3 separate regions of the Homo sapiens genome follow, and all the other regions are linked to region 1. The links come from fine-mapping of genetic effects on gene expression. A gene starts in region 1. Each other region holds a variant in brackets. All regions are shown on one strand. Distances are between the middles of the regions.

Region 1 (5,222 bases):
TATCTATATTGTTATTCCAAAGAACAGACCCGTCGCTCTTCAACAGAAAGCAATGAATGACAATTCATAGTCTGAGACTGTCCCTTGCCTGAAAATTCTAGCCTTGCTGTATGTACCAACCCTAAGCTATTCAGTCATAATCCTTACCCAATACTAATCAAGCCCCACCCTCCTATCCCATGTTGAAAGATCCACCTTAAAACAGATTTTGAAAAGCTACTAAGACTCTATAGTGTCCTTCCTTACCGCAATGAGCCATAAACTCTGCTTTGTCTTATCAACAGGTTGTTTTGGTGGGGAAATTGCTGGGAAACCAGCATTTATTTGACACATACCTATGCAAGGTTCTGCTGCATCCTCCCCAGGGGAGGCCACTTCCTGCTGTACAGCAGACTCCACTTCTGTCACCACTGCTACAGCTGCCTCTTTGTCCAGCCCAGGCTGGGTGAGACTTGGGCCCTCAGAGGAAGGCTGGGGCCACAGCAGCAGTTCAGAGCCTGGCAGCACCAGCTGGTACACTTGCAGATGAAGCCTCTCGCTGATCCGCACTGGGGCCACATTTCCCTCACTCTCCAGCCTGCCCCGTTGTACCAAGCTGCAAAGCAAAGTAACAGCCAGCTAGGAGATGCTCACTATTCAAGTGGTCTTCCCCGAAAGCCCCAGTCCCCAAGCAGTCTGGGTCCTAAAGGACGCCGTGCCTTTGGAACATTCACTGCAAAAGAGCACTGAATAGGAAATGACAGTCAGCACCGGGTTCCATCCCAAACCACAACAGAAAACCTCAAAGGAACGACACACTCTCCTCTGACTTACCTAGTCCAGCCAGAACTCTGCTCACAGGCACACACGTCTCCCCATGGGCCTAATGACAGGTTCTGAAATAAACCAACAAAAGTCCTTCTCAAATGTGTTCGAGGGGTCGGGTAGGAATAAAAAAAGAAACTAGATGAAACTTTCCTGGGACAAATTTAAGATGAAACTCCTGGAAGGTTAGAAGCCTCTGGTTCTCCTCTAACAGGACAGTGCTGTCTGATTCTTCATTCAGTAAGGACCAAAAAGTCTGTCTCCTCACCTCCCTCCCAAGGGTATGGAGAATTACTAAATTGAACACATTACTGTCTTCCAGTGAGTACTAAACAGAAAAAGTAATAAGGAACACCAGCTTTTTAAAATGGTATTTATTGGGCCAGGCGCGGGGGCTCACACCTGTAATCTCAGCACTTTGGGAGGCCCAGGCAGGCGGATTACTTGAGGCCAGGAGTTTGAGACCAGCCTCACCAACATGGTGAAACCCTGTCTCTACTAAAAATACAAAAATTAGCTGGGTGTGGTGGTGCACATCTGTAATCCCAGCTACTCGGGAGGCTGAGGCATGAGAATCACTTGAACCTGGGAAGTGGAGGTTGCAATAAGGCGAGATCGTGCCACTGCACTCCAGCCTGGGCGACAAAGCAAGACTGTCTAAGAAAAAAGAAAAATAAATAAAATAAAATGGTACTTATTGTGCAGTGAAACCTTTTATCTTCACTATTTCATCAGCTCCTCCATATAATCCCAAGAGAGCCACTGCTTTGTTTCACAGATGAATTAAATGCGGCACGTAATTTAACCAGCTAGGTGACAAAGCTGGAATTTGATCCCATGCTTTCTTAATTCCAAAAACCTTAGCTCTTGACCTTCCTCACTCACTGCTGACACTGTATGATTCCAGCTTTCAACAACTTTTCAAACCTCGATTCTTTAACTACTGCTGCTGAGAGGAGACAGTCCTGAAGAGAAGGGACAAGACTATCTCCTATCTCTTGAAATACTCTCTTTCTTCAAATTGAAAAGCTGTCTAGCAATGTCCAAACCTCCCCTACATTTTCAAGGGCGGAGGGAAGTCGCTCTATCCTTCAATACCTCCTCCTGCCGTGGCTTTACTCCCTCGCCCTTCTCCTTGGAGGCAGACTCCTCTTCCAGCGGCCCCCACAGCAGGCCGGGCTGCAGGGGGTCCCCGACACACCAGACCCCCAAGCGCTGTTCCTTGGCGAGTGAGGGGCCAAGGGCCAAGCCCCGGGGAAGGCTCTTTAAAGCGAGGATGTCTCGGGTCGGCTCGGGTGGGACGTCTTTGAGGCCCTGCGTACAGCCTTCTCCGGAAGGGTTCCATCCTAAGTCCAGGCCCAGGCGCGGCTCGCGGGCTGCAGAGAGAAGGGAAGACAGTGAGGGAGCCACCCAAGAAGGTGGGAGGTGGGGAAAAGTGTGGGAGGAAACCGCAGGTCCAGGTGGGCCTGCGGAGCCCGAGGGACAGGTGAGGGCTCTAAGGAGGGCCCTGAAAGTTTTGAGGAGGCTCAAGGGCTCTTCAGAAGCCCCCAGCGACTCTGAGGGCACTGGAGGATCCTGGGATCCGGAGGAGAGAAGACTGAGGAGAAAGCTGACCACAGAGCGTCAGATCCACCTGGGCCAAGGTTGAGGGTCGCGGACATCGCAGGTCACTCACCGAGTTGCAGCGCCTTCTTCCCCTCCAAGAGCAGCTCCTCCGCCTCCTCCATTCCGGGTCAGAAAGCCTCCCTACGCCGGAAGTGAGCTTCCTCTTCTCAGCTCCTCCAGGAAACAGTCACGGACTTCCAAATTTTTTTCTCAGGAAAGAAGCCTCAGAGCTGGACCTCATTGGTGCACAGGACTGGGAGTTTGGGAGTACTGGGGAGGCAGAACTCTGTCCGAGAGCAATGCGAACCTCGGATTCCGGAGGTGCACCAGTGATTCGACTAGCTGGGAAAGCGGAACTAATTGTTCCAGCCATCTCTTTGGGAGCGACGAGTCGGACAGTTATGCTGTTACCTCCCCGAGGCAGGAACTTAGGCGGGCATGTGCAGGAAGTGGGCGGGGCTCCTGGAAAGGCCATGTTTGGGGCCGGAAGTGGGTTGGAGGTGTGGCGGAAATGGTTGGGGATAGAAGAGAGCGGGAGGGGGCGGTTCCCGTTCCACCGCGGAGCCGGATGTTTGCCGAGCCTTGACAGGCGTGGCAGAGGGAGCAGTGCCCGAGCGCGGTGAGCTGCTGGGCGCGGGGTCTCCCCGGGTGGGGATGGGGAAAGGAAAGGAGCTGGCCAGGTCGTCCGAAGGGATGGGGTCCGGATGGGGAGGACCGGAGCAGATCCGAGGAGGGGAACGGGGGTGGAACTGGGCTCAGAGGCCTGGCCTTCCTGCAGGGTTTCTGCCCCATTTTGGCGCCTGCAATAAGAGGACTTAATCATTTTCACTACCTTCTTCCTGCCTTCCCCAGGGCAGAGTCCAGGCCGGATCGCTGTCATCCAGCAAGCCGGCGGGAGGGGGAAATCTCCCAGATCTGATCTGGCAAAGCACTAAGAAGAAGAAATTTGGGGGAAGTGTTCCTCCTTGCCACTTATTAGGCCACGCTTTCAGTTCAACTTATTTATTTTTTTAAGACGGAGTTTCACTCTTATTGCCCAGGCTGGAGTCTCGGTTCACTGCAACCTCCGCCTCCCGGATTCAAGCGATTCTCCTGCCTCAGCCTCCTGAGTAGCTGGGATTACAGGCGTCCGCCACCACGCCCGGCTAATTTTTGTATTTTTAGTAGAGACAGGGTTTCACCATGTTGGCCAGGCTGGTCTCGAACTCCTGACCTCGTGATCCTCCCGCCCCCGCCTCCCAAAGTGCTGGGATTATAGACGTGAGCCACTGCGCCCGGCCTCAGTTCAACTTCTTAATCTGTGAAACAGGATAATTGCAAAACGTAACCTGGGCTTTGTAAACCGTGAAGCTCTATGCAAACATAATTGTAGTTGAGAGTTGTAATTGCTGTTGTATTGTGGTGGGATTTGCAACTGGGAGGCCGATTCCAACGTTGAGAATATGATTTCTTTTCTTTTTTTTTTTTTAGACGGAGTCTCACTCTGTCGCCCAGGCTGGAGTGCAGTGGCGTGATCTCGGCTCACTGCAACCTCCGCCTCCCGGGTTCAAGCGATTCTTCTGCCTCAGCCTCCCAGGTAGCTGGGAGTACAGGCGCGCGCCACCACACCCGGCTAATTTTTGTATTTTTAGTAGAGATGGGGTTTCACCATCTTGGCCAGGTTGGTCTCCAAATCCTGACCTTGTGATCCGCCCGCCTCGGCCTCCCAAAGTGCTGGGATTACAGCCGTGAACCACCGTGCCCGGCTGGTCCTCTCTTTCCTCACTGTAAAATGAGCTTAGTAGAACATGCCTCATCAGTGCTATCGTGAGGTTGAGTTTGTGTCCCCAGTTCATGGTCCTATATAGGCCCTCAACAAGTGTGGGTTCCCTTCTTTACTTAGGAGATGAATTAATTGGTTCATTCATTCAACAAATGATAGCATCTACTATATATCAGGTGTCATTCTGAATAGACCAGAAGTTCTTAAACAGTGATTCTCAGAAGGTGTATGAACCTCTTAAAATTGCATACATCTCCTAAGTTTTCTTAGGGAAAAAGTCCACACATGTTACCAATTTCAGAAAAGTCTACAACTTCCTAAAAGTGATTGCCTAAGGTGATCCTTAAGATTTTTGTAAAGGTTTACCTGCTGAGAATGGAAAAATTAATCTCAGAGTTGGGTGTATTTTGCACAGAGTAGAGCAGGCTTGTGGGTGGCTGGTGTCTTAAACAGGCAGGATACTTCATTTCTACTACTTGATGTTAGAATTTCCCTGTGCTAGCTTCCTCACCCTCCCACTGAATGGGAGTTTAACTTCCAGGCTCAGAAGTTAAACTGTGGGTTGGGGGTAGTGGGAGGGGCCAGTCTGACTGGGAGATGGGAACCACTGGGCTTAGTTATGCTGGGAAAGGAGGTTATGTGGGGGCGTTGAGGGAGGTCATGTCTGGAAGAACTGACAGCATAGAAGAGCAGTCACTGGAAAAGAGGTGAAGTTCAAGTTCAGCTCCCTTTTAGATGGTGTCCTTCTCCCTCCTTCACATCCACCCCAGCTCCCAGCTGCTCCTTTTTTTTTTTTTTTTGAAACAGAGTTTTGCTCTTTTGCCCAGGCTGGAGTGAAGTAGCTTGATCTCAGCTCACTGCAACCTCCACCCCCTGGGTTCAAGTGATTCTCCTGCCTCAGCCACCTGAGTAGCTGGGATTACAGGCACCCACCACCATGCCTGGCTATTTTTTTTTTTTGTACTTTTAGTAGAGATGGGGTTTCACCATGTTGGCAAGGCTGGTCTTGAACTCCTGACCTCTGGTGACCCACCCACCTTGGGCTCCCAAA
Region 2 (5,222 bases), 340 kb before region 1:
TAATCACTTATCTGAAATCCTGGGACCTTTCTGGTTTGGAAGTGACAAATTTTGAGATTTTATAAAGGTTGCACAAACCAGATGTGATATAACACCTTCAGCAGGGTTGGGATAGCACCCCATGGATTCAAACATATTAAAGTCTCCACAGTGAAACATATAAGTATTCACACTAAGTGGGATAAACAAAGACCAAAATTAGCCCATGAACTAGTTTAGGTCAAGTTTGCCCCACAAATGAGGTTGCTGAAAACTTACCAAAGGACAACTTCAGGTTTTCAAAGCTTTTTTTGAATTGTGAAATTTATTAATATACATAAACCTGTAGTTCTTTCAGCAAAAGCCTGTGAGTGGTAAATGCTCTCAGTTTTCATCTACCTCAAAATATCTTTATTTTACCTTCTGGAGTGAAATTTAATTCAGTGGAGAATTCTGGTTGTTACTTATCTTCTCTCAGCACTTTAAAGATACCACCCAGTTGTCACCTCGCACCTATCACTGATATCAAGCAAACTGCTGTCAAACTCCTGCCATTCCTTTGGAGTTAATCATTCTTATAATTCATATAAACAATTTTCTTTATCATTAATGCAGATTCTACAATGTATCTACCATGTAGGTTTATTTTTATTTATCTTGCTCAGTACTTTAAACTGACTTCTGTTTTTTGTCAGTTCAGGAAAATTCTCAGCCCACATATACATTTTTTGAGACAGGATCTCACTTTGTTGCCCAGGCTGGAGTGCAGTAGCATGACCATAGCTCACTAGAAGCTTGAACTCCTGGGTTCAAGTGATCCTCCCACCTCAGCTTCCTGAGTAGCTGGGACTACAGGTGCACACAACCATGCCTGGCTAAACTTAATTTTTTTGTAGAGATGGGAGCTCGCTATGTTGCTCAGGCTGGTCCTCAAGCAATCCTCCTGCCTCAGCCTCCCAAAGTACTAGAATTATAGATGTGAGTCACTGCACCCCCCAATTCTTTTTAAAATATTGCTTCTTTGCCATTCCCTATATCATTTTCTTCTGTTTCCTATTAGATATACATTGTAGCTTTTTAATGCCTCTTACCTGTCTTCATAGTTTTTTATCTCTTTATGTTATTATCTTTTAAATTATTCATTCTCTATTCTGTCTGTTCAGCCTAAGTAATGCAGATTCTACAATTCTGCAAGATTCACGTGACTGCGCTCCAGCCTGGGCAATAATGTGAGATCCTATCTCAAGAAATACACATGTATATATATTGGCTGAGAATTTTCCAGAACTAACAACAACAACAAAAAACAAAACAGAAGTCAAAGTGCTGAGTAAGATAAATAAAAATAAACTGTCCAGGAGCGGTGGCTCACACCTGTAATCCCAGCATTTTGGGAGGTCGAGGCGGGTGGGTCACAAGGTCAGGAATTTGTGACCAGCCTGGCCAATATGGTGAAACCCTGTCTCTACTAAAAACACAAAAAAATTAGCCAGGCGTGATGGTGCATGCCTGTAATCCCAGCTACTTGGGAGGCTGAGGCAGGAGAATTGGTTGAACCTGGGAGGCAGAGGTTGCAGTGAGCCGAGATCACGCCACTACACTCCAGCCTGGGTGACAGAGCGAGACTCCATCTCAAAAATAAATAAATAAATAAAAATAAACCTACATGGTAGATACATTGTAGAACCTGCATTATTCAGGCTGACCAGACAGAATAGAGAATGAATAATTTAAAGATAATAAGTGCCTCCCAAGTAGCTGAATCTACAGGCGCATGCCACCATGCCTTTTTATATCTAGAGACAGGATTGTAGAGACAGGGTTTCGCCATGTTGCCCAGGCTGGTCTCAAACTCCTGGGCTCAAGTGATCCACCCACTTTGGCCTCTGAAAATGCCAGGATTACAGGTGTGAGCCACCTCAACCTGGCCTCAAAGTCAGTTTTAAATGTTCAACTATTTTTGTTTTCTCTGGAGTAAATTTATGTTTATTGGGTTTATTGACTATCTTTCTCAACATCAGTGTTCCTCATGTATTTTAGAATTTCAGCGTATAAGTTCATGTGAAGTGGGAGGTTTCTACTCTCTCTTGTGGACAGACCCTAGTCCAGAACCAGGT[C/T]TTGTATTGGATGGCTTATGGCTCCATTCCTGATATTAGGGATATCATACAGATTGTCACTGTACCCCTAAGGAGGTTGGACCACTAAGACCTGGCTGTAAGGCTGTCTGCTTCCTCCCACACCTCAAGGTTTTTGTTTTTTTAATAGACGGGGTCTCACTATGTTGCCCAGGCTGGTCTCAAACTCCTGGCTCAAGGGATTCTCCTGCCTCAGCTTTCCAAACAGCTGGGGCTACAGGTGTGCACCACCGCACCTGGCTAAACCTCCAGGTTTTATGTAAGCCATTTCTCAGGTAGCAGTCATAACTTTTTTTGAGTCTTTCTTAAAGTGGTGGAGGCAAAAGGGGCTAGCTCCAGTCTCCTGCACTGTGTGTATAACATTTTGAGTCTCCACCATTCAAGAAATGAGCTTTCAGTTACCTACGCCTTCTGAATCCAGAGCACAGGAGGCATGTGGTTACAGTCCCACTTACTGCATTGTGGTTTAGTGAGTTCCTAGTCAGATGAATTTATATTAATTTTATACATGGCTATGTCCTTAAAAATCTTAGAAAATTTTATGTATCATTACCATGTGTATGAAATGAATAAGAGGCCCAAGTCATGAACACTGCAAGCCATCATGACCAGAAATCCAAAACAAACATTTGACCTACCAAGCTTAAAAATGCATATTTGCACTAATTTTTCATTGTATTTGACTAAACTACAAAGTTCTTTAATAGACATTAATCTTTCCTCTAAAGTAAAACAAAAAAGTTCCTAAAAATATCTTAAAGGCCATACAGAAGTACACCATATGTCTGCCATAAACAGATTTTGCCAAAACGAGTATTCAAATTTCATTGAGCAATTTTTTTTATTCTTTAAGTTGTTGAAGTTTTTCCTTGAAGATTTTAATTTTTAAAAATTTTGACATATTGTAATTTCAAATTTACCAAAAAGTTATAATAGCACAAAGAATTCCTGAATATCCTTTACCTGGATTACTCAAATGTGAATATTTTGCTACATTTACTCTCACTCACTCTCTTTTCTCTCTCTCTCTCTCACACACACACACAGACATATAAGTACATATGTATATACATATTATCATTTTTTGGAACTATTTAAGAGTAAGTTATAGACGTGACGCTTGTTTACTCCTACAGTATTTCAAAAAAAAAAAAAAAACAGAAGTCAAAGTGCTGAGCAAGATAAATAAAAATTAGGAAATAAGGAATTCCTAAAAATATTCCCTAAAAATAATGAAATCTTTCTTCCATCCATCCATCCTTCCTTCCTTCCTCTCTTTCTTTATTTTATTTTTTATTTTTTTGGACAGGGACTTGCTCTGTTGCCCAGGCTGGAATGCAGTGATGCAATCATAGCTCACTGTAGCCTTGAACTCCTGAGCTCAAGTGATCCTCCCACCTCAGCCTCCTGAGTAGCTGGGACTACAAGCACACACAATCATGCTTGTCTATTTAAAAAAATTTTTTTTTGTAGAGATGGGGTCTCACTTCCAGGCCGATCTCAAACTCCTGGCTTCAAGTGATCCTTCCACCTCAGTCTCCCAAAGTCAGCCTCCAAGAGCCACTGGAGCCTAGGTTTAGCAACATCATTGAGAAATGCAGCCTTAAGTTAAGTGGATCCTTGCTGGCGCAAAGGTGGCATGGGAAAGACCACTTGCAGTTGCAGCCTGGCCATCCAGCTATCAAAAGGGCATGAAAGTATTCTGATCATCTCCACAGACCTAGCCCACAACATCTCAGATGGTTTTGACCAGAAGTTCTCAAAGGTGCCTACCAAGGTCAAAGGCTCTGACAACCTCTTCACTGTGGAAATTGACCCCAGCCAGGGTGCAGCATAGCTGCCCAGTGAGTTCTTTGAGAAGGAAAACATGCTGAGCATGAGCAAGAAGTTGATGCAGGAAGCCATGAGCGCCTTTCCCGGCATCAATGAGGCCATGAGCTATGCTGAGGTCATGAGGCTGGTGAAGGGCATGAACTTCTCAGTGGTGGTGGTTGACATGACACTCAGCAGATCAAGAACCAGATCAGCCCCTTTATCTTACAGACATGCAACGTTCTAGGTCTTGGGGACATGAACACAGACGTGCTGTCCTCCATGCTGAAGTAGACACTGTCCATCATCTACTTTGTCAGCAAACAGTTCAAGGGCCCTGAGTAGATTACCTGTATCATCTGCGAATATATCCCTGAGTTCTATCCCTGTATGAGACAGAGTGACTGATCCAGGAGCTGGCCAAGTACAAGATTGACACATACAACATCATCATCACCCAGCTTCTCTTCCCCAACCCTGAAAATCCTGAAAGATATGTGAGGCCTGACACAAGATCCAGGCCAAGTATCTGAACCAGACGGAGAACACTTATAAAGACTTTTGCACTGTGAAACTGCCACTGTTTCCCCATGAGGTGCAGGGGGCAGACAAAGTCAACACCTTCTCAGCCCTCTTTATGGAACCCTACAAGCCCTGTAGCACCCAGCAGCACCACTGCCAGCCCCAGCTGCTGCCATTTTACATCCAACCTTCACCTTCCCCACCCTCCAGGGCAGAGTTTACACAAATCCCTCCCCACCACCGCTGCCATAGTACAAGGGAGCCACTTGGGGAGCAGGTGTATGGTAGATGCACCTGTCATAAATAATTGAAGCATACCCTGAGAATGACCCTGTGGTCTAAGATGAATGTGTGTTCAGAGTTCTGAGTGAAGGAATTTGGGAATGGCCAACCCAGAGATTCATTCTTTATCTATGAGGAACATCTGAACCATCTGATCCATCCCATGGATCACAGGCCATACAGGGGTTCGAGGCCCTTTGTTTTGGGTTGGATGAAGGTTGCCAGGTGGAGATTGCCGGGGTCGAGGGGCTAAGTGAAAATGCTGTATAAACTGCATGCTTTTTTATAAGTGGTAGCAGTTCTCCTGTTCAGCATGCTGCCCCTGGACTGCCCTGTATGTAAATCCCCTCAAAAAACCTTATGTTTCATTTGCTGGCTCCATGTCTCTTTTTCAGCCTCGCAAACATGGTGCCATCCCTACTGAAGTCAATAGGGGTCCAGCACAACAGGAAGCAGGGAGGGAGTCTATTCTCCTGGTGGGTGTAGAAGTGC
Region 3 (5,193 bases), 30 kb after region 1:
CAGTGAATGCCCCAGGTGGGCCAGGAGGAATGGAGTAGACCTAGATCTCCTTGACCAGGACTACCAGCGAGGCTGGGAAAGGACAGATCATAGGTGGGTGAGGCTAGGCACTTGACTTATTCAAGTAACAATACCTGAAGGGTTAAGTCAATCATACGCCCAGCTTTGATTTCTCAACCAGAAGCCAATCCAGCTGGTAAACCCCAGGGCAGTGTAGAGAACCTGGGATTAGAGGGAGATGGTAGCTAGGCCCAAGCAGGAGGAAAAGCTCCACAGGACAGCCCCAGGGATCAGGAACAAGTACCCAGGCAGTTGGGGGACACACACAACATCCCCTAACCACTACATGTGGCCATCACATTTAGCACCCAGGACTTCCTGGGCTGCCAGAATGGAGTCAGTCACTCTGCAGAAACTGTGGGAGATGTAAGGCTCTCACCAGGAATACGCAACTATCCAAGGTAAAGCCTTTAGTCAGTTCCAGTGCAGCCACACTGGGAGGTGACTTTGCCCCCGGCCAGCCCTCTTCTTGGATCTCGCTGTCTGTATGGTGGGAAGATCCTCAAAGCAGCAGCCCGGATTCTCAATAACCTCCGGAGGAGGAGGTCTCCGTCCCAGGAAGAGCCCTCCGCCTTCTCCAAGTGAAAAACAACTCACCTCAAACATATTTCCTCTATAAAATATCTGGTTTCTCTGAAAGTAATAAATATTTACCATGTTCTATAACCAAGGAGCAGCAACGGGGGGACAAGAGGAAGAGAACTTTGCTGTGACTCCAAGTGACAAAATCCTAGAGATTCAGGGTGCCATTTTTATTTCCCATGGAGCTGAGGACCTGAGCACAGGCAGCCACCAGGGCTGCTCAGACCCTCCCGACCTTCAGGGGTGGGAGTGGTTTTGGAGTTCTGATCTTGGGTAGGCAGGCCTGTCATATTGCCAGAAATACAGGCATAGAGGCAAGAGAGAGAAGAAGAGGAGAAGAAGATAGCAGGAAGTAAAGGGGACAATGAAGAGAGCTAAGGGACTCCTTCCTTCTTCCTCCTGGCACTGTCTCCTTCCTCTTTCTGCGACTCCACACCAATCTCTTGGCCACCAGCTGGAATGTCAAACAGTGGATGGTGACAGCAGGCAGGGAAGGGGCCAGCTGCAAGGCAGGCCCAGGCAGGAGGCCGGCAGCAGGAGGAACAGGATGACACCCTTGGGAAGCAGTTGGTGATGGGCAGGGCACACAGATGGCCCTGCTGAGGGCTTTTTCGTACGAAGGTTCTTCCCATCTCCAAGGCCAGCACGTGAGTCTTCTCCAACTGGGCACTGGGCTTGACTGCCGCCACGGAGTCTCCAGGAGGTCCAAGAGTAGGGACTTCTGGGTCCCCATGGGAGAAGCCAGCCTCCCTTCCACCTGGCTCAGAGCAGGATGAGGGGTGGGAGCAGCTGATGCATGGGAGGCTGCTTATGCCCTGGGGCCACAAAAAGGGGGTGCTGCTGGGACTCAAGGATACTTTTACTGCAGGGTTTCCACAAAGGCATCAAACTCGCGGACATTCTTCTCATGCACAGCCAGCTTCTCTGGTAATGAGTCCTGTACCGGAAAGAGAGGGAAGAGCCGTTTATTCAGGCAGGGCCTTGAGGAGGCAGCCAGCCCAGTCCCGAAGAGGGGAGGCAGCAAGCAAGACGAAGCTCAGCCCTAGCTGGGCCGAGCAAGTGGGAGAACGCAGGGCAGCTGCGTAGGCACAGGGTAGGGAGGGGTATATGCATCAGGGCTTTGCAGGGGCTGGAGGATTAATGGAACGGCCTTGGGAGTCCAAGTGGGCCACACACTTAACAAAAGAGAAAAGGACCACAAGAGCAAGATGATTCAGAAATTAAACATGAAATATCCCTGGCACAGATCTGACTGACACTAGAATAAAATACCAAGTGTACAGCTCTACAAATTAAACAGTTTACAAAAGATTTCTTCACACCCTTTGCTGGGCATCGGGACCCCCTGGGGGGAATGTGAACCAGGTGGCCCCACTATACTACTGACATTCTGACACAGTAGCAGGTCTGTGGTAAGGCCTAGGAATCTGTATTTTTAAATTTTTTTCTTGAGACAGAGTCTCGCTCTGTCACCCAGGCTGGAGTGCTGTGGTGTGATCTCAGCTCACTGCAACCTCCGCCTCCCGAGTTCAAGCAATTCTCTGCCTCAGCCTCCTGAGTAGCTTGAGTAGCCTCCTGAGGCGCCCGTCACCAAGCCCAGCTAATTTTTTGTATTTTTAGTAGAGACAGGGTTTCACCATGTTGCCCAGGCTGGTCTTGAACTCCTGATGTTGTGATCCACCCGCCTCGGCCTCCCAAAGTGCTGGGATTACAGGCATGAGCCACTGCACCCGGCCAGAATCTGTTATCTTTATACCAGCTGAGGAAGGGGTGAGTTAGAGATTGAGAGAGAATGGTAAAGACAGAAGCAGAGGAAAACAGAACTGTGAGAAGTTTAACTGTCCTAGAGTATCAACTATTAATAAAAATGCGTCTCTACTGATGACTAAATGAACAGAAGCTGCATCTGCAGAGTTTCACCATCACAATTTCCTGCCAGTAGGGGTTTAAACACGACCACAAGGGAGCGTGGAGAGTCTCTTGCCTCAGAGTTTTTAATGTGGCCTGGAGACACCAACAGCTGAGGGTGGTTTGGGTGCAGCTTCCTGAAAG[G/A]AGAGGGAGGCCTCAGAACTGGCTACGGCTGTGGCATCAGTTGAGAGAATTGGAGCCACACTTTCTTCCAAGTGCATGTCATGATAGGCAAGGGAGTTTAGTGGTTAAAAGGCTAAATTGAGGAACCAGATCCTCTAAGATCAAGCAAAGCTTTGTTTTGCCTGGGTCTGTGTGACTATGAGCAAGCTAATCATTGTTGGTTTTCTCATCTGTAAACTGGGATGAGAAAACTTACCTCTTAGGGCTGTTGAAGATTCATGTAAAACACTTAGAAAAATGCCTGGCACTCAAAAAGCCTTGATTTTTATTTATTTATTTATTTGTTTTTGAGACAGGGTCTCACTCTGTCACCTAGGCTAGAGGCAGTGGCGCAAACATGGCTCACTCCAGCATTGACTTCCCCAGCTCAAGCAAGCAATCCTCCTGCCTCCACCTCCCAAGGCAGCTGGAACTACAGACGGATGCCACCACGCCCAGCTAATTTTTTGTACTTTTTGTAGAGACAGGGTTTCACCATGTTGCTCAGGCTGGTCTTAAACTCCTGAGTTCAAGTGAAGGCCTCCTCAGCCTCCCAAAGTGCTGAGATTACAGGTGTGAGCCACTGTGCCTGGCCCAAAAGGTCTTGGTAGTAGTAATTATTACTTTTTTTTTTTTTTTTTGAGATGGAGTCTCACTCTGTCACCCGGGTTGGAGTGCAGTGATCCAATCTTGGCTCACTGCAACCCCCACCTCCCAAGTTCAAGTGATTCTCCTGCCTCTGCCTCCCGAGTGGCTGGGATTACAGGTGCCCGCCACCATGCCTGGCTAATTTTTGTATTTTTAGTAGAGACGGGGTTTCACCATGTTGGCCAGGCTGGTCTCGAACTCCTGACCTTGTGATCTGCCTGCCTTGGCCTCCCAAAGTGCTGGGATTACAGGCGTGAGCCACTGCACCTGGCTATTACTGTATTGTTATTACTGGGCATGCTTTTCTCCTTAAAGCAAATCCAGGGCAGCTACCATAGGATCTTAATATCTATTTAGGAGGTGATCATTCCACCTCAAAGAGGGACATCTCCTGGCATGGGGCACCCAGTTTGTGGCTTGTGCGGGGCACTCTTCTGCCCCTCAGAGGCAGGAAGAGGAAATGCCCTAAGCAGAGATGGGGTCATTATAATCAGTATCAGGACATCTGGTCAAGTGTGAGAACTGCTAGATGACGGAGTGAGCTCTCTGAGGAAAGAGCAAGAACACAGATACTCAGGACCTCACAATCTCCTCTGCCCAGTACCACTGGCATCTGCCTGGAAAGCTAAATAGCTAATGCAATGGCTGTTAGAGCAACTTGGCCTAGTGGCATCTGCAAGGAGAAGACGTCAGGCACAGAACAACAGGAGCATGTAAGTAATGCTGAGAATGTGCAGAGAAAGAAGGAACCAAGCTCAAGCAAATTCCAGATAATGACTGCTGGGCACAATGCCAATCTCAAGAGTGATCAAAAGATAATTTTCTAATTATGTCTCTTTCCTATTACAGGGAAGATAGAAGGTGGTAGGCCTCCTAGGCCTTTGGCAAAGGAATGACCATCAAATAAGGATGCACTGTGGTAGAGGAAGACGTTTCCATACCAAGTCTTCAGCCATGGACTGTGCTCCAATATCTATGGAGAGGCTGCTCAGCTGAGGTGGGTTCTGAAACTCCCGATAGAAGGTCCCCAGGTCCATCGGAAGAATGTCATCTTTAGAAAAAGCTGGTTTCTTCAAAAACAAGACAGAGTCAGTTTAGCTTGCCTTGAACCACAGAGGAGATAAGCTATGAACAAGTCTTTCCTTCTAGCAATTATCAAAAGGTTCTTTCAGGCTTATCTTAGGGAGAGAAATCTTTACACTTTTCTCTCCCAGACTGTTCACTTCTAATGCTGGTGATAATATTCCTCTCCACTAGTTAAGTTTATGTCCCACTCCTTCAAACTCCTTGCCTAGCCACGAATAGGACCTAAGTGGGTATCAGTGGAAAATCTCCATTTAGAGTTGAATTTCATTATGAATTTTAACCAAAGGCATGACAAAAAATGCCTTGTTGTTTATCGGCCTCCAAAATGTCTCCCCAGACCAGACTCCACCTGTCCATCCCTTCTGTCTACACCAGCACATCTGATCCCTATGAAGGAAATCTGGATCAAGTGCAGTAGATGCTTCTAGGTCTAGTTCCCCGGGACAGCAAAGGTCAAGGAAGGTGACGGCGACTTACAAAGTCTATCATAACAAAGTCATCATGGGTATTGCCACTGCTGCCCCCGCTGGAGCCATCTGAGTGCAGGCTGCCCTGGAGAGGAGATTCAGTCTCTGGGGAATCTGGAGGATTCACCTGTTTCATAGCAAGGCAGGATTAGGGCTGATGCTGTGACCCAGATTCAAGTTACTGTAAACAATCTGAAAATTCTGGGAAGAACTTAATGCTGGCTACAAACCCGTAAGCCGAGGGGCCATGGTTTATAGTCTGTGGGGGATTAGTGACTCT

The links. PIP is the estimated chance that this variant, and not a neighbour inherited with it, causes the effect.
Region 2: its variant is fine-mapped to the expression of ARHGAP1 in whole blood (INTERVAL, PIP 0.92).
Region 3: its variant is fine-mapped to the expression of ARHGAP1 in whole blood (TOPMed, PIP 0.93).

What each region holds. Positions count from the first base shown.
Region 1 is chr11:46,698,357-46,703,578 of GRCh38, reverse strand. It overlaps ARHGAP1 (Rho GTPase activating protein 1), which reads left to right and starts at 2,960. Exons shown (of 13, transcript NM_004308.5): 1 at 2,960-3,028. It overlaps ZNF408 (zinc finger protein 408), which reads right to left and starts at 2,548. Exons shown (of 5, transcript NM_024741.3): 1 at 2,480-2,548; 2 at 1,903-2,180; 3 at 814-875; 4 at 336-595. The coding sequence starts at 2,531. RefSeq lists an enhancer at 2,465-2,754 and a silencer at 3,085-3,204.
Region 2 is chr11:47,040,396-47,045,617 of GRCh38, reverse strand. All of the region lies in intron 2 of CSTPP1 (centriolar satellite-associated tubulin polyglutamylase complex regulator 1), which reads right to left. It also overlaps the pseudogene LOC112268075. Among named protein-coding and RNA genes, the nearest start is that of CSTPP1, 110 kb to the right of the region's middle. The variant C/T (reference allele first, on the strand shown) is at 2,097.
Region 3 is chr11:46,668,641-46,673,833 of GRCh38, reverse strand. It overlaps ATG13 (autophagy related 13), which reads right to left. Exons shown (of 19, transcript NM_001346311.2): 17 at 4,924-5,040; 18 at 4,302-4,430; 19 at 1-1,579. The coding sequence ends at 1,502. Among named protein-coding and RNA genes, the nearest start is that of ARHGAP1, 29 kb to the left of the region's middle. The variant G/A (reference allele first, on the strand shown) is at 2,695.